4 linked regions of the Homo sapiens genome follow. Changing the gene in region 3 together with the main gene of any one other region gives a genetic interaction. Each region holds a gene or a part of one and is shown on either strand. Other genes may lie near its edges.

Region 1 (4,535 bases), on a different chromosome or scaffold from region 3:
CCCTAATGATAGTTTCCTGGCAATTATTACTAATACTTTAATATCACACAAATCAACAAGGACAACTACAAAACTGGATAGTATTTACCAAATTAAAAAAATAATATATAAAATATAAATAAAGTGAATATTTGTCTCACCAATTATGTATACCTACGTATTCTTTACCTATACTCCTTTAATCAGCATTAAAAGTTGAATATTTACTGTCTTGTCCAGTGTCCTGCAGAGTGTGCTCCTCGGCTGCCATACGCGCCAGCTTCCTCTTTAAAATGATTTGTACTGTTAGCTTGGCAATACCTGCATCAGCAGCTCAACCATTTATAAAGAAACAACATACAAGGAAGGCTGAGCTGAGGAATGCAGATGTTTATGGTAAGAAGGAACAAAAAATGTAATTCATCATTCCTAAGGCAAACAATTAATAAGAAAAATACATTTACTGTTAGTGAAAAATACAAATGGTAATCCATACTTCATGGAACTACGGGCTTCTTCCATGGGGAAAATGGACTTAACATTCAGATGTTGACAATTTCGGAAGGCAGCTTATATTGTCATCTACAATCTGAACTGAAACTCAGAAATCCAGGGGATGCATGGTCAGGAAATAAAATTCTTCAACTTATTTTTTCTTGGAGAATTTAATGAGATTTTATAATGCAAACTGTATGAAGACTGCTTGATGGCTTGAGCAGTGTTCAGATCACAGCATACATATTCAAATGATTTTAATATTTGGAAAGACTGTCAGAGGGTTGTGTCCGTGTAAAAAAAAAATTGTTAATATGAAACAAAAAAAGCAAATGAAGAGAAAAAAATCTTACTATGATTAATAACTCGCTACAAGACAGCACCATTACTCCAAAAATATCTTCATTATTAAAAGCACTGATATAAATAAAAATTTCATACATTCAATTTTATAGTCTGTGAAACCCACTATAAATATAAGCATGTATATCTAGTTAAAGACAGGACAAGGGAAAATGCATTTTAAAAGCTAAGCTTACCAGAAAGCAAAGAGATTTAATATGTCAACTTGTCCACAATAATGCCAAGATGAAAAATGACAATGAGTCTTAATTATTTTGAGTCAAATATTTCAGTTCAAGAAAATACAACTACAGGATTTCCTACATCACACACCAATGGGATTCATATTCATTATGCAAACTATGGTGACAGACACTCAGGGCTGTAAAGTAATTTGCCTTGAGTGTTTCAGTGACTTTCACCAAGTTTTTGGATCCTGGAGTAATCAGTGCAAACAAGCCATAAAGCTTCAGTAGCAAATTACTGTCTCACAGAAAGACATTTTCAACTTCTGCTCCAGCTGCTGATAAAACAAATCATGTGTTTAGCTTGACTCCAGACAAGGACAACCTGTTCCTTCATAACTCTCTAGAGAAAAAAAGGAGTTGTTAGTAGATACTAAAAAAAGTGGATGAATAATCTGGATATTTTTCCTAAAAAGATTCCTTGAAACACATTAGGAAAATGGAGGGCCTTATGATCAGAATGCTAGAATTAGTCCATTGTGCTGAAGCAGGGTTTAGGGGAGGGAGTGAGGGATAAAAGAAGGAAAAAAAGAAGAGTGAGAAAACCTATTTATCAAAGCAGGTGCTATCACTCAATGTTAGGCCCTGCTCTTTTTAATCTGACTGAAGGCAAAAGCCTCTCACAGTCTAGGTAACAGAGTGACAGAATAGAAGAATATACAACCACAGGTGGATTTTTAACCTTTTCCCTTTACCACTCCCTGTCTCCCCACCGTCCTCCCAAAAAAGAATGTAAGTCCTGCAGCCATGGCAAAAGTTTCAAACACTTCTCAAATAGCCAGTTCCATTAAATCAAAAAGTATCCTTGAATATGTTTTATAAAAGCTTCCAACTTTTAAGTTATCAGTCAGCACTTCTGAATAGGCTAAAAAATTAACTTTCGCAGCAATGTTAAGTTTAGACGAGAAAGGAATTAGATAGTCTGTATTCCATCTCTTTCTGAACTGAGCAGGAGGCAGAACCCAACACTGAAAGTTTTGCCATGGACTGTCTCTACTTTCCAAACGACCGAGCGTTACCTCTCTAGCTTTTTGTGCGGCAAGCTCAGCTTGTCTCTGTCGCTCGAGTTCTTCGAGCAACTGCTTTTCCATGATGCGTTTGGCTTCCTCCACCCTTCGGAGAACTTCTCGTTCAATTTCATCCTTCCTTTTCTCCAGTTCTTCCTCCACCCTTTTTGCTACCAATTCTTCTACTCTTCGTGCTGTTTCTTCCTCGATGAGTTTTTCTTCTATTTCTTGCTGTCGACTAGCAAACAAAGTGAAAAAAACAAGTTAGGTATTTACTTTTAAAACTATAAATTTAAACAAAACTAGTTTTAAGTCTATCAAGCCATTGAGCCTGATATTATTCAGTGATTTTTTCAGAATTCATTTCCATGTCACATTTGAGGAAATGACAGATACCAAGATGTTAACTGATACAGAAATTCAAATGAGTATAAAATCTTTTTTTCCTTTATCATATTCTAAATACAGGAGAACAGGTATATACAAAGAGCCTAATTCATTAGTTCTAATTTAGGAACAATAAATCCGGACAGAAAACCTATTCTGTTATTGACTTTATAATCAGAGGACAAGTTGTTAAAACATATGGATTTGCTCATTTGCCAATCACTTCGTCTGGGGCTGAGCTACAGAGAAGGAGAAATTATGTAGCAGGCAACTCAGATTGGCTGAATTGATTTCCCGCTAAGCAAAGAGAGAATAAATACAGATTGAAGAGATTCAGATTGCTGGACTAATAGTGCGTAGTTTTTACTGAAAATATGACCAACTTAAGTTTTGAACTGAAGTTCTTTAGCTTTATAGTTCCTTACTATGTCTTTTCTTCCTTTTGTTAATTTTCAATTAAAAGCTCCTCTAGAAATGGGAAAGTGGGTAAAAATATATTTTTATTACCAGAAAAAGTTCAATAAAGCATGATACTACAGTTTTAATTACTCCAATCCCATTTTGATATTATAAACCAATTTACTCAAAATAAAATTCTGTGCTGAAATTACTGACATTCATCAAGGCACCACTGGAAATCCTGCACATTTCATACCAATGATATTCAGTGACAGCCACCAGTCATATGTGTCTGGTCCAAACTGAAATTTAGTATGAAGAAAAAGAATATAAATGATCTCCTATTTTTATTTGATTGCGTGTTAAAATGATATTTTGGATAAAAATATACAATAAAATTAATTTCATCCATTTCTTAAGGTTACTAAAAAAATTTTACATTGCATATATTGTTCATACTATTTCTAGTTAATAGCACTGAGACAATAATTTGTGCTGAATGAATAAATTCTGAGGCTCTTGCAGTAAATCTCAATCCTAAGAGGACGATTCATGTTCCAACTTTCTCAAAATTAAATAAAACCTGCAACCTTTATCTTTTGATCACTCATTTGACATCCATATATATGAGAATCATTCAATTTATCTGTTTAGTAAAGACTTTATAGTTTCTAAGTGACCTTTAAATACCCCAATCCACTTCAACTCAACTCTATTCTTCGGGATGATTCAATTCTCACCCAAGGGCTCTCATTTTCAACTCCTGTTACTTATTCAGTGATAACACACTAACACCAATGTGTCTTAATCTGATTCATTTCAGTTTCTACATTTATCCTCTACATTCTTCTGTCAAGGAGACAGTAGGTACTAGAGAAAGAATATTTTCCTTTAAGGGCCTAGATGTTTGCCCAACACTCATTCTCAGGACTTTGTTGTTTGAAGTCTTTATCTACAGCAGCTCAGTGAGAGAGCAGGTATCTTCCCCAATACTAAAAAAAATCAATCACTGGGAGCATATAAAAGGAAACCAGACAGCAACTTCAATAGAAATTAAATCACATTTCCATATAAAATGTTGTTTCTCTACTTCACCCAAAAGGAAAGAAAACTAATCAATGAAACAAGGCTGACAACTGTTGAATCTGGATAATGAGTACCCAAGAATAATAATAATAATCTGCCTTTGTGAATATGTAAATTTCTCATAATAAAGTGTACACACACACACACACACACACACACACACACACACACTTTTGCTAGTTGGTTCTTCTGAAATTAGTAAATGTAGAGAAGCCTAAGAAGAAACTTAATATTTAAAATTTCAAAACCGGTACAATGTGACTTTTAATTAACAATACTAGGTGGATCATAGTACCGACTATTAAAAAAAAGGATAATGTAACACAGTTCCAATTAAAATTCCACACAAAGTAGAAAGAAGGCCCTAGGAGTAAAAAGTTGCCATCTTAAGAATTTGGTGAAGGCAGAAGAGACCTGATACACACTCAAGGTTATTTTTGGCAGTCAAGCCATCCCTCAGCAAAAGCGCAGTGGCTAACAGGGCCTCATTTCCATAGCTTTGGTCAGTAAGGAGAAAATGAGCCAAATAAATTTACTTACAGCAAATGCCAAATCAGAATGTCAGTTCCCTGCTTCTATTTCCACTGATGACATC
Region 2 (4,975 bases), on a different chromosome or scaffold from region 3:
TCGGGAGGCTGAGGCAGGAGAATGGCGTGAACCCGGGAGGTGGAGCTTGCAGTGAGCTGAGATCGCAACACTGCACTCCAGCCTGGGGGACAGAGTGAGACCCCGTCTCAAAAAAAAAAAATTTTTTTTGAGATGGAGTCTCACCATGTCGCCCAGGCTGGTCTCAAACTCCTGGGCTAAAAGCCTCCTGGCTTGGCAGGAGGCCAACGCACCCAGCCTACTTAATCTTCAATAATCCTCTCTGTGGCCAGAGCTGCACACTATTTAAAAGTTTAGGGCTGACCAGGCTCAGTGGCTCACACCTGTAATCCCAACACTTTGGGAGGTTGAGGCAGGAGGATCGCTTGAGCCCAGGAATTTGAGACCAGCATGGACAGCATAGCAAGACCCCATTTCTATTTTTAAGTAAGTATACAGATTAAACACTGACTATAATGTGTCTAGAAGAGAGTGGGGATTCAGTAAATACATATCAAATGGTTTAGTGTATGAATGAATGATTTTATGACAACAGTTCGGAGGTCAGGAAGAGACAGAGCCTTGAACATGAATATCTACCTACAGCACACCAACCAGGCTGGGCTTTATTATTATTATTACTTTATTAATTAATTAATTAATTTATTTATTTATTTGAGACGGAGTCTCGCACTGTCACCCAGGCTGCAATGCAGTGGTGTGATCTCGGCTCACTGCAAGCTCTGCCTCCCGGGTTCACGCCACTCTCCTGCCTCAGCCTCCCAAGTAGCTGGGACTACAGGCACCCACCACCACGCCTGGCTAATTTTTTGTATTTTTAGTAGAGATGGGGTTTCACCGTGTTAGCTAGGATGGTCTCGATCTCCTGACCTCATGATCCACCCACCTCTGCCTCCCAAAGTGCTGGGATTACAGGCGTGAGCCACCGCGCCCAGCCTGGGCTTCATTATATTATTCAATCTTCCCCCTACAAGGCTCCAGTTAACATTACTTAGTATTTTCCTATACTGAAGAATAATCCACCATTTTTCAGTTTTCTCTGTCTGAAACTGATTACAGGCAGCTTGCCACACAAAAAATTTAGTATGTCCTTTTTTTAAACTCAGTGTTCTTCCTTTCTAGGTCATTTGATTGAAAAACAGTGGCATACTGGTTACAAATCCTTCTCCCTGTGGAAACAACCCCACTGTTGACACGACTCCTCTAGAAAGGAATGCTCAGCCTCCCCTGAGCTATCACTGCACTGCTTACAGCAAAACATTTCTTCTAAATGGGAGTGCCTGGGTTTTTTCAGAGTTGTTACTATAGAATTATTTTGGGTATCTAAACACATTATTTCCACTGGTTCCCCTACTTTTTTCTTCCAAAAAAGATATACCTGCTAAAGCCAACAAATTGTTTGGTACAAAAATAAGCATCCAGTTCCCTAGGATTCCCTAAGGAGATCTTGATTTTATTTTCATTTTTTTTTTGAGACGGAGTCTCGCTCTGTCGCCAAACTGGAGTGGCACAATCTCAGGTCACTGTAACCTCCACCTCCCAGGTTCAAGTGATTCTCATTCCTCAGCCTCCCGAGTAACTGGGATTACAGGCATGAGCCACAAAGCCCAGCTAATTTTTATATTTTTAGTAGAGACGGGGTTTCACCATGTTGGCCAGGCTGGTCTCGAACCTGGGACCATAAGCTTGTAGCTGGGACCATAAGCTTACACCACCATACCCAGCTAATTTTTTAATTTTATGTAGAGACAGGGTTTCGCCATGTTGCCCAGGCTGGTCTCGAACTCCTGGGCTCAAACGATCCATCTGAACCAGCCTCCCAAAAAGTGCTGGGATTACAGGCCTGAGCCACTGTGCCCCGCCTTAATGTTTATTGAAATGTCTGTTAGTATTCTCAGAATTACTACCACCAAAGGACAAAGTTACTTCATAAGCGCTTATCAAGTTAACCAACACTGCAACAGTTAAGCAATCATTTGGTCAGAGCTTAGCAGAAATTGAAAAAAAAAAATCTCTAGAGTTAAAAGAAGGAGAACTAAAGGAAGAAACCAAAAACAGCTGCTATCGTGGTAGCAGCTGAGAGCACAGCTGGCCTCACCAATTTCTCGATGAAATCATCCACAGCTTGCCCAGCCTTCACCAGGAGGATGATCCGCCGGGGCTTCTTCAGCTTGGAGACCATCTCTTTCAGGGACTGGGCACCCACCACTTTGGTTCCCTTTGCCTCATTGGCCAAGAAATCATCAACTTTGGAGACAGTCCTATTAAAAGCACAGACCTAGAAGGACAAAAGTCCTGAGTAGGAGATCCAGGACACACAAGACTTTCAGACTGTGGCCAAAGTAACAATGACCTTTCCATTCAACCCAAGTTCTGGGGAGGTCAGACCTGCCTTTGCCTTTTCTTCCCCCAGCTGTGGGAGGCTCACTGTAAAGTTATGTCACCTCAGTAGGATGAAAACGGCGGACAACCGAGGCGAAGGCCAACTACCCCCGGTGTGTCAGGTAGAATCCACACCCAACGTGTTAGGACTCAAAATCAAATCCAGGAACTGGCCGGTTCAACAGGCTCTATCTGTTGTTATTGATCATCCTGGCGTCTAAGCCACTTTAACATTTAGAAGAAACATTTTCACTCTCCCCAGATCTCATCAGGCAATCAAGTTAGAGCTCTACACAGCCAGCAAGGGTTCTCCTCCCGCACCCTTCTTCTCTACTTAAGACACTAATTCGTTCATTCGGGCTGTGAACCTCACGGACCCACAGGCACACTCCGCAGGACTAAGTTCGGGATCGGCCCGCCCACGCCTACAGGGTGCTTCTCCTTTCCATACAAAAATGCCACGAGCAGCAACAGAGCACATTAGCAAAGCACGGCCAGGAGACCCGTAAGCTCCCAAACCTATCGCCGGCCTCGGCTAAAGCGCCCGGGAACCAGAGAGAAGACAACGCGCCCACGCCGCTTACCACAAAGCCGTGGTCATTCATGTTCAGAATTAAGTTCTGGCCCATGACGGCCAATCCGATCAGCGCGATGTCAGCTCTAGAGAGGCAGAAACAGAACAAAGGAAAGAGTCAGCACCGCTCGACGCGCTGCAACCCAGGGGTCCGGTCCTTCCACATTTGGCCGTGACTGGGAGTCTGCACTTTCCTCCGCGCCTCCCGCGGGCCCCCAGAAGCCGGGCGCGCACGCTGCAGAGCCTCGGCCGGGCAGGCGGCCCCCAGCCCCGCCCTCGCGCCCGGCTCCCGCTGGCACGCGTCCCGCAGGTGTCCCTGCAGACTCGGCGAGGCCTGGCCGCGCCTCCTCCCTGGCCCTCGAAGGGACCCGCCCCGCCCCATGCCTGCGCGGCCGAGAGGGCAGGGGGCCGGGCCCGCAGGGAAGGAGCTCTGGGCCCGAGACGCCGTAGGGCCAGGGTCACAGAGCCCCAAGTGAGCTCAGGCGACCCCCAGGGTGGGAGGCGTCGGAGAGAACGAGGGAGATCTCGACCCCCAAAGAGTTCCCCGCCCGCTGAGGCCGAGCCGGGCTGCCCCTGGCGAGTCACTCACTGGGCCATGGCGGCGGACAGAGCAGAACCGAAGAGCGGCGACGCGCGGAGGACGAGTGAGGGAAAGACCCGCAGCGGCTCCCTCCAGAAACTGCGGCCGCTCACGCCCGGCTTTTCGGCGCCGGCCAATCGAATGGAAGGGGGTGGAGCCATGAAGCCACACCATTGGCTCTCCCCGACGCCTGTTAGACCATCCGAGGCAAACGTGCCCGCCCACCCCCGGGGGCCGGATCAGTGGAGCGCCGAGCACCTAGATGACATTGCCCCGGCGAGGCTCCGGGCTCCCCGCCCACGCGCAGAGCTTTCCGCTCGTCCCAGCTGCACCTCGGTCCTGCAGGCCGTCCGCCTGGCGCAGCTGTAGCCATAGCAACTCACGCAGGACCGCGCTTTACAGTTTACCAGGCACTCGGACGCCTTTGGCGCGAGCGCCCGTCGCTCCTTCCTCAGGTCACTGCGGTGCACCGTGCGGGTCCGCGTCGTGTCCTCCGCTCCGGAGCAGGGACCGGGCGTGCTCGTTCAGTCCTGTGCGCACTCGGAATGGGGCCGGGGAAGGCTGAGCCTCAGGGCGACCCTGATGTGGAGCCGTGCGACCGCTCACTGCGGTTGAAGAGACCCAGGCGCAGACAGCGCAGGCGGGGTATGTATTGGTTGGAGTATGATGGGGTCAGGACTTGAGTCTTTTACCCAGGCCCGGAGTTAACGGTATTGAACCCCTTCTCATTTTGTAGAGGCTATGTGACCCGCGAGATGGACCAGGTTAAATGCAGAGGCAGATACAAAAAACCAGCCATCTTAAGCCAGACATTTGCAAAGTAGCCAAGCAGCGCTTCTTATCTTACTGAGTCCCTTCTTGCTAGGAGGAAATTGTTATTCAGAAGTTTGAGTTTTAGATTTTTTTTGTTTTTTTTGAGACGGAGTCTCGCACTGTCGCCCGGGCTGGAATGCAGTGGTGTGATCTCAGCTCACTGCACCTTCCGCCTCCCGGGTTCAAGCAATTTTCCTGCCTCAGCCTCCCAAGTAGCTGGGATTACAGGCGCCCGCCACCACGCCCAGCTAATTTTTGTATTTTTAGTAGAGATGGGGTTTCACCATCTTGGCCAGGCTGGTCTCAAACTCCTGACCTCGTGATCCGCCCGCCTTGGCCTCCCAAAGTGCTGAGATTACCGGCGTGAGCCACCGTGCCCGGCCTTTTTTTGATGTCATTGTTGAGATGGAGTCTGGCTGTGTCTCCAGGCTGGAGGGCAGTGGCGCGATCTGGGCTCACTGCAACCTCCACCTCCCAGGTTCAAGCGATTCTCCTGCCTCAGCCTCCCAAGTAGCTGGGACTACAGGTGTGTGCCACCATGCCCAGCTAATGTTTTTATTTTTAGTAGAGACAGGGTTTCACCATGTTGGCCAGGCTGGTCTCGAACTCCTAACCTCAAGTGATCCACCCACCTCAGCCTCCCAAAG
Region 3 (4,535 bases):
GTGCTCGTACGTGCCTCTAGTCCCAGCTACTCAGGAGGCTGGGGCAGGAAGATGACTTGAGACCAGGAGTTCAAAGCTGCAGTGAGCTGTGATCACACCACTGCACTCCAGCCTGAGTGACAGAGCAAGTCCTCATCTCCAAAAATAAAAAAAGATAAAATAAAGGGTCATTTATGTAGGATTGGTTAAGCATGTTTTTGCTTAATGGCAACAGTGGACCCTGCTCCTTCATTTGGAGCAACAGGATTAAGCTCTTTATCCTATCTCTCTTTACTATAATTATTGAAAAGGATTTAAAGACAGTTATTGAAAAAGGCTTAAAGACAAATCATATTTCATTTGTATCTGAAGTCCATTAGAAAGTCTATCAGCTACGAATCTCACATCCCTGTGAAACTGCATAAAATTAATTAAATTTGATTTGATATTCAGAGTCACAGAGCAGGAAGAATCACCAAGAGGTTTTAAGCAAATGGTCTTGCTCCTCATCCCTTCCAATGGTTCCAAGACCTCTCCAACATTATTTATTCATAATGCTCCCAGAAGAAAATGCTTATGATTAACTACCATGGCCCTGCATCTTGGGTTGCCATTTTGATTTCCCTTTGCATCTTTGCATGTATCAAAATAAAATTATACAAGATTCAGCTTTAAAATAAAGCATTTCAACTGAAAATCAACTAATTTGAATTTCAGGAGGTGTGGTGGCCAACATCAATGCCAGGTGAGTTGAACTGAGATTTTAACCTAATCAGCACAGAGGCTATGTGAAAAAGTAGAATTTAGATAATTTTTTTTTTACTCTAATTGTTGAAAAATTATAAAATACAACTAATTCCCCCTGTATTGATTCAGCCCTTTCTCCTCCATCTGGAGAGTAGATGTTCCCCATATCTTGAATTTAAAATAGCTTTAAGTAAAATAATCTTTATATGTTGGTATGGCAGATTGAGAAAACTTTGCTTCAACATCAACATCTTTGTTTGAATATAAAACTGCTGAGGTTAGGAGTAATTGCTGTAGTGAGAAAAAAATAATAACTCCAACCACTGCTCCACTTTCCCATGGTGTTGGGAGGAGGCAAGAGAGCTTTGTAATAAACATTAATCTCCTTCTCAGAAAATAACTGTGTGACGGTCTGCAGCAAAAAGATTCCTTACATTTGTACAGCACATCATGCTTCCCAAAGCATTTTAACTTATATTAATTTAATTTGATGTGGAACAAGCATGTAAAAGCAGAGCTAATGCTTCAGGATGTAGTAACAAAGTGGAACAAACACATCTGGGTCATCTGAGCCTTCCAAGGCCCCTTGGCTTTTACAATTCAACAGACCTTCCATTTTGATAACTGTAAGGTTAAATTACAGGACACCTTTATGGATTAGGCATCTGGCTTGGCACATTATAAATAAAAATTTTTTAAATGCACCTGTGATTATTTACCTCCTTCTGGTTGACAAACAACTTTAAAAATGTGTTAATACTATTTGTTATAATATTACAATTAAAGTACCACTCTATGTACCCCAGTCTTGGTATCTATTATTTAATAATTATTAGCAATTGGCTTTATGATCTCAGTCTCACTACAGAACAGGTAAAACAGTACAGTTATTGTCATTTACACTAAATTAAAATTGGCATGCATACAGCTGAAGAATAAGCCATTACTAGCAATTTTCACTGACAAACCAAGTCCTGAGGAGTTAGATATTAAAGACTGTTGTTAGATAAAAAACATGGCATTACTACTGAAGACATTTTCTAATGCTAAGAATATTAAAAATCTTACCTATATATAAATTGGACCTGAATTCCACGTTATGGTCTCTCACTGCCATATCTTGTGCTTCTAAGAGAACCTTAAATAAGAAAAAGAAAAGCATTTATACGGCTAAACCTGAAGTAAAATGGAATTAAGTTTCTCATCTCTCATTATCTCTGTACTATGACTGCTAATCACATGCTTCCATAGTCAATTTTAAAAAGACAATATCAAATGATAAGAGTACAAAGGAGAAGGGAGCTTTCCTGCCTTAGACCAAGAAGTGTAAATGCATAGAACACAGCCCATCCTACTAAGTTTTAAATGACATGTGTAAGCTATAAAGGAGATAGCGGTGCTTGTAAGCAGTACCCTTGGGAAGGAACATTATGTCTTTGAGTCAGAAACTTGTCAAAAAGTTCCCAAGGCCAGATGCAGTGGTTCACATGTCCATGGTCCCAGTACTTCGGGAGGCCAAGATGGGATGGGCAGACCACATGAGGCCAGGAGTTTGAGACCAGCCTGGCAAACATGTCAAAACCCCGCCTCTACTAAAAACACAAAAATCAGCCAGGTGTGGTAACACATACCTCTAATCCTAGCTATGTGGAAGGCTGAGGCTGGAGGATCACTTGAACCCAGGAGGTGGAGGCTGCAGTGAGCCAAGATTGTACCACTGCACTCCAGCCTGGGCAACAGAGACCCTATCTTAAAAAACAAACACGAAGTTCATGAAACTCAATAGCTTAATCTTACTGAAAAGTCTTAGCTGGGATGGTGGCTCATGCTTATAATCCCAGCACTTTGGGAGGCTGAGGCAGGAGGATCCCTTGAGGCCAGGAGTTCGAGACCAGCCCATCTCTACAAAAGTGAAAAATTTGCTGGACGTGGTGGCACACACCTGCAGTTCCAGCTATTTGGGAAGCTGAAGGACGAAAATCCCTTGAGCTCAGGAAGTTAAAGCTGCAGTGAGCTGTGATCATGCCACTATACTCCAGCCCTGGGCAATGGAGTGACACCCTGCCTCTAAAAAAACAAAAATCTAATTAAAAACTAGAATAAAATAAAAATTCTTAAACTTTGGATGCAAATAACCATTAACATCAGACAAGTAGAGAAAATCACACTTGATATAATAATTTCCTTGAAGAGGTTAATTATCAAATTTACTCTCCATAGATATTTTGAATTAACTTCCTCCAGAACACATTTTTGTAAAAATATGACAATTGGGCCAGGCATAGTGGCTCTCGCCTGTAATCCCAGCACTTTGGCAGGCCGAGGTGGGCAGATCATGAGGTCAAGAGATTGAGACCATCCTGGCCAACATGGTGAAATCCCATCTCTACTAAAAATACAAAAATATTAGCTGGACGTGGTGGCACACATCTGTAGTCCCAGCTACTCGGTAGGCTGAGGTAGTAGAATCGCTTGAACCCAGGAGGTGGAGTTTACAGTGAGCGGAGATGGCGCCACTGTACTCCAGCCTGGGCGACAGGGCGAGGCTCCATCTCAAAAAAAAAAAAAAAAAAAAAAAAGACAATTGTCAGAAATAACAGAAACCAAATCTTTCACGCCTTAAAAGATAAAGAATGTAGTACAAGGCTGGGTACACAACAAACACTTGTAAATGCATTCTGAATTGAATATAGCAAAATCAAAGCATTACAAAGGAACCCTTTAGAAGTCTGAATCTATCAATCTCAACTATTTACCTATTACTACTAAACTGAAAGGTATGAACTGACTTTTGGTGAGAATTAACTGAATATATAGAAAACAATGCTGATAGCCCCAGATGGTAACGGACAATAATCAATACAACTTTTTGAAAAAAGAATATTAAAAAAGAAAAATAGGCCAGGCGCGGTGGCTCACGCCTGTAATCCCAGCACTTTGGGAGGCTGAGGTGGGCGGATCGCCTGAGGTCAGGAGTTCAAGACCAGCCTGGCCAATATGGTGAAATCCCATCTCTACTAAAAATACAAAAATATTAGCCGCGTATGGTGGCGCGCAGCTGTAGTCCCAGCTACTCGGGAGGCTGAGGCAGAAGAATCGCTTGAACGCAGGAGGCGGAGACTGCAGTGAGCCAAGATGGCGCCACTGCACCCCAGCCTGTGCAACAGAGCTAGACTCCGTCTCAAAAAAAAAAAAAAAAAAAAGAAAAATATATGTAATAAAAAAAGAATATTCATGTTCCTAGAAAGAGTCACCACAATTACCATCAGCACATTTGTATCTAGTGAATTAGCTACATTTAGAGTTGGAAGGATCTTTAGGGGTCATCTAATCCAATTCCACATAGTTTAGGTGAGAAAAATAGAAACTGACTGGTTAAGTGTCTTGCCCACGGTCACAAGAAAAAGATCAGAGAAAGGACTAGAGTCCAAGTCTCTTGAGTTCCAGTCCAGGGCTCTTTCCATTTAGTTACAAAATTACTTAGTTATAAAAACTCTCCTTTATAGGAAAAAAAAAATCTTCAAAAAAATATACCTTGAAGTTCAGCCTTGCTCCAAGAAATAAATTATATACACAAACACACATACATACACACAAATACACACATATACGTACCAAGCCCCAAATCATTAAAAATAAGATTCATCACATCATAAGCAGTAAAAAACAGATAAATATTTGGTGGAAATAAAAGCACCTCAGGAAATAAACCCTAAAGCACACAACATTCCTAAAGTATACACATATTTAATAAACTGAGAACCCTAAATCTGTATTATATAAAGTATGCATTTACAACAGAAAATTTA
Region 4 (4,535 bases), on a different chromosome or scaffold from region 3:
ATGAAACAGTCACTGAGTATCATTTATGTGCTGGGATCACTCCAGGTCTTGGCGAGTTAAATGAAAATGACATTGGCCCAGCTCAAGGGCCAAGGTGTGGGGTTTGGGCAGATGTGCACATTATTATAAAGTGATGTGGTGGCGAGACCACTTGTATTAATTTAGAATTTTACGTGTGTATATATATATGTGTGTGTATATATATATGTTTTAAAACTTTGTTTGGAATGCCTCAGAAAATGTTTTTTATTAACAGGAAAGAACTGACTTCCTCTGGTGGGCCAACAAAGTTTGAAATCCATATAGTGGCTCAGTTCGATAATCATAATTCTCAGGTCTGGCGAGTGAGTTGGAATATAACAGGAACGGTGCTAGCATCTTCAGGAGATGATGGGTGTGTAAGATTGTGGAAAGGTAAGAGTTCAGTGAAGGGGTAATTGTTGGTTTATATTTCTGCTCTGCAATTTTTACTTAAAATGTAAACTCTGAAATATTTTTTGAAAATGGTCTTTTACAGTTACTTTTAATGTCATATTAATTTATGTTATTTTGAACATCAGTTTACCTAGTTCATAGAAGTTAATGACTGAATTGTTTTTTAAGTTATGTGGAACAGAGCAGTTTTCAAAACTAAAGTAATTACAACAGAATATGCAATATCTCCAATAAAAAGATACCAGTTGTCATATATGTACCTTACATGACTGCTCTACAAACTCAGGCTAGGACTGTAGTGGCTCCTTTTTTATCAAATAAATTGCTTTAGACAATCCATCCTTAATAGGAGAAAATCCAGTATCTTCCCTGCTTCTTCTCTGCAGCTCCCATAAGTTAAGAGCCTTGGGGGCCCTGATTGTAAGTTTCTTCTAAGTGCCAGGCTGAGTGAGAAGGTCTGGTCAGTTGACACTGACTGTGGTCTCTGTAGCTTGGTTCTGCACTTCTCCTTGGATGATTATCCATTAGGCAGAGATGTCTGTGATTTGTGCACCACCATAGAATGGTGTCCCATACTTAGCATTCAGAATTATAGCTATCTTTGTTTATTTGCCATTTAGCAGTTATTGTTTCCCAAAGTGCAGTTTGGGTAAGCTTGAGGGCCTCCCATGTTCAATTTTGGGCTTTGGTAAAACCAGCCCAGACCTTCCTTTCCTCAGTGTAATTTGATTTTAGGGGCTTTGCTGTCCTTTTCTGCCTTTAGGCTTTATTCAGGACCACCTTGCCATGCTCCCCAGCAGGGTGCCTAACTTGATTTTCTTGGGCTCATTGTCTTCAGAGACCAATTTTTCATTCAAACTAATAAGGCCATTTTGGATAAGCCACTGAAGCTCCAAAGGTTTTGTTACCTACATCCATTTCAGAAGACATGATAGGTACCCTTATAACTTATACTTGCATAATTAAGAAGACAACTTCATTACCTTACATACATATGTAAGTGAAATTCATTATAATGAAGACTTTAATATTATAATGAAGATTTTAATATTAACTTCATAATGTGGTAGCTCAGAGAATTGTCTTTGCTAGTATCTGTAAGATGGGTGGTGAAAGCTTTATATTTTTAAAATTAGTGATACTTTGAAAACTTCTAAAAAGTTGTTAAAACTGAGATAATATGTCTTTCATTTAAAAAGTGTCTTTAATGTTTATCCTGAAAGAAATGTAGCTCATAGCCTCTGTCTCGTTTCTTTAATTGTAGTTTAAGGACATGGGTACAGATTTGTGCCCTTAGGCATTGGTATTAATCATGTTAATGTATTTGATTATTTTCCTTTCAGCTAATTATATGGACAATTGGAAGTGTACTGGTATTTTGAAAGGTAATGGGAGCCCAGTCAATGGGAGTTCTCAGCAGGGAACCTCAAATCCTTCCCTAGGTTCAACTATTCCAAGTCTTCAGAATTCATTAAATGGATCTTCTGCTGGCAGGTAGGCTGCTTCATGGGAAAACTGGAAATCATCTTTGTTTTAAATCATTCTGGTAGCCATACTTAAGGTGGATTATTTCATGGATTATAAGATGGAGTGGAAATGTTCACATGTGCTTGTATTAGCATTTAAGAATTCATTTTGTTAGCTATGTATTTGGCTTACTTGGTCATAATATTTGCAGGTAGGTTATGAAGTCATTACATTATATTCTGAAGCTTTAGTGGTCTATTGGTAGAAATGTTTACAGGTTTAAGATTCAACTTTGCTTCCGCAACAGTGAGAGGAAGGTTATCTGGTTTAATGGTGAGAGTTTTAGTCCAAATGAACATTAGTGTTTTTTAGTGCTTGTAGTGTGGTCTTTGCATTAGGTCAAACTGAAATTTTAAATAAAATACATTTCTTAAGGCTTTCTAGAAGAGGGTACATTAAGTTATTTGGCTTTTGTGTTTAAAACTTTAATAGAAATAAGAGGAAATAATAAAACACGAGATTGATTTTTAGAATATTTAGCATATGTTACATTCTTGTATATCATAATAAGGAATATTTGATGTCATCTAGAGTCTGTTTCCATGTTCAAATTTTAAATATGTGAATTTGTAAGATAAAATTATTTTAATATGCCTTTGTGAATAATTTGGAATAGAATTCAGGAAACGTCAAAACACAGCCTAATGAATTGTCCTGTGGTTATATCCTCTTGTTATCCTATATAAAAGAAGAAAATTGTATTTAAAATTTCAACTATTTTTATATTGTTATGTTTTCATAAAGAAGTTCTGCTTTTGATTTTGAGGTTTTAAGTACATGCATCAAAACAATTTCAGGTTACCGTGGAAGATACCAGATTATAAAGATTATTTCATGAAACAAATAATATTAGAGTTGATTTTTTAAAGTCTGGTTTTTGGTCACTGCCTGTACTGCATATTTTCTTTTGTAAATAGCTTCTATTTTTTGATCTGTATTCTTATTGTGCCAATAACCATCTGTGTTAGATCTGTGATGCATTTTCCCTTTTCCATTTGTATTATGTCCTTTAACAGAAAGCACAGCTGAGTACAAGCTAACTGGAGTAACTTTGCTGTTTTGCTGCTTGTTGCATGCACACAGGAATGGAAAGCGAGCTCCTTTTCCCCTTCCCCAGCGCCGTTTGACCTCTCCCAAGATACACCAGCAGCCTGCTTACTACTAAACGCAATCCAAAAGGCCTTTAAAAATACAGTGTATATTTTTTGTACTAGTCAGTTTATTGACACTATTTGAAACTTTTGAAATATAAACGGAGAGGCTTTCTGTTGAGACATTGTCACCAAAACAATTTTTTGAAATGTTCCTGAAACTAATTTGGGTTTAAAGATTAAAAGGGTTGTTACCATTCTTATCTGAGTAGTTGGGAGGAGGGGAATACCACTTTAGTTCATTTGGAAAATATAGACATATTTCTTTTGCTTTCTTAAAACAGCTTAAAATGATGAACTTTTATAATTTTAATTTGAAGATTGAATAAATATTTTTTATAAAGATTGTTTTGAGTGCTGATTTGTTTACTTTTTGTAGATTTGCTTTATCCATGATATTCAGTACAACTCTGTCATTTCTTTGTAATATTTAAAAAATATTAGTAAAGGAGTGAATTAATAAAGTAGTAATAGTAAAATGAAAGGAACTTGACTGTACAGTTTGTAGCCAGGTTAAGCATTTGGTATTGTTTCATTTACAATTTGGGACTAAGATGGAAACACTTTTTTTATAAGTTTTTAATTCATAGTCACTAAAGAGATAAATGTTTCTTATATACATTTGTGTATTTTTATGGTGTTATTTATTCCATGGCTTAGCTTCCTTCAAATCAAAATTTGGACACACACTATTAAGAGAAGCCATTAAAATTTTACTAAAATTGTGCATGTAAATTAATTGTCAGCATTCCATGTCTCAAGATTTTCTTAATTTAGTTCGCTGTTTAAATTAATTCATGTCCTGTAAAGTTCTGACCTTGATAACAAAGCTATAAATATTTAAGTTTGCTAATATGCGTAAGTATTATCGGTAAGTTACAAGATGGAAGAAGAATAACAGTAGGGCACAGTCATTCTGTGAATCCTTTTACTTATCAAAATTTGGTAGCTATTCTAAGGCTTTTGCAGAAAAATAAGTGTTCAATGTTTGTAGTTCTTCAAAAGCATGTTGCAGTAGCCAGCCATACTATGTGTATTCCCAGTATCATGTACGCACTAAAAAAAATGTGTGCTTGCTGCTGCTGTGAGTGAACCATTGCTTAAGATAAAAAACTTAACTAGATCTGTAAATGTACAGAATAGCATCAGATGTTTCTGAGAGATTAGAAAATGTTTTGAATTTATAAAATTAATGTTTTTCTTTGTAACATTTATATATATTTTTTAACATTTTAAGTTTAACAGATTGTATTCCTTTCAAGTTTCTATACTTGCTTAAGCAATCTTGATTTGAGTAAGGGTCTTGATTTGTGCTATTATGTTCTGTTAGTTTTGGCATGAATATACTAAAGCTTTTTTTTTTTTTTCTAGCATGTGTTTTCTCCTCTTTGGTTCTCTTTGTATTTACTACTTTTCTCTTTT

What was found. A genetic interaction does not mean that the proteins touch.
Region 1: changes in MRPL22 (region 3) and ARGLU1 together harm fitness more than expected from each alone (negative genetic interaction), as found in Homo sapiens cells (one large-scale study listed by BioGRID).
Region 2: changes in MRPL22 (region 3) and PGD together harm fitness more than expected from each alone (negative genetic interaction), as found in Homo sapiens cells (one large-scale study listed by BioGRID).
Region 4: changes in MRPL22 (region 3) and SEH1L together harm fitness more than expected from each alone (negative genetic interaction), as found in Homo sapiens cells (one large-scale study listed by BioGRID).

What each region holds. Positions count from the first base shown.
Region 1 is NC_000013.11:106,557,352-106,561,886, forward strand, and holds part of ARGLU1 (arginine and glutamate-rich protein 1), read right to left. Parts: intron 2,307-4,535; coding exon 2,081-2,306; intron 1-2,080. UniProt on the Homo sapiens protein: Dual function regulator of gene expression; regulator of transcription and modulator of alternative splicing. General coactivator of nuclear receptor-induced gene expression, including genes activated by the glucocorticoid receptor NR3C1.
Region 2 is NC_000001.11:10,397,675-10,402,649, reverse strand, and holds the start of PGD (6-phosphogluconate dehydrogenase, decarboxylating), read right to left. Parts: upstream 3,587-4,975; 5' UTR 3,533-3,586; coding exon 3,525-3,532; exon of another isoform or gene 3,320-3,524; intron 3,022-3,319; coding exon 2,946-3,021; intron 2,258-2,945; coding exon 2,078-2,257; intron 1-2,077. UniProt on the Homo sapiens protein: Catalyzes the oxidative decarboxylation of 6-phosphogluconate to ribulose 5-phosphate and CO(2), with concomitant reduction of NADP to NADPH.
Region 3 is NC_000005.10:154,957,309-154,961,843, reverse strand, and holds part of MRPL22 (large ribosomal subunit protein uL22m), read right to left. Parts: intron 1,865-4,535; coding exon 1,795-1,864; intron 1-1,794.
Region 4 is NC_000018.10:12,982,262-12,986,796, forward strand, and holds part of SEH1L (nucleoporin SEH1), read left to right. Parts: intron 1-256; coding exon 257-414; intron 415-1,778; coding exon 1,779-1,929; intron 1,930-2,978; coding exon of another isoform or gene 2,979-2,991; exon of another isoform or gene 2,992-4,535. UniProt on the Homo sapiens protein: Component of the Nup107-160 subcomplex of the nuclear pore complex (NPC). The Nup107-160 subcomplex is required for the assembly of a functional NPC.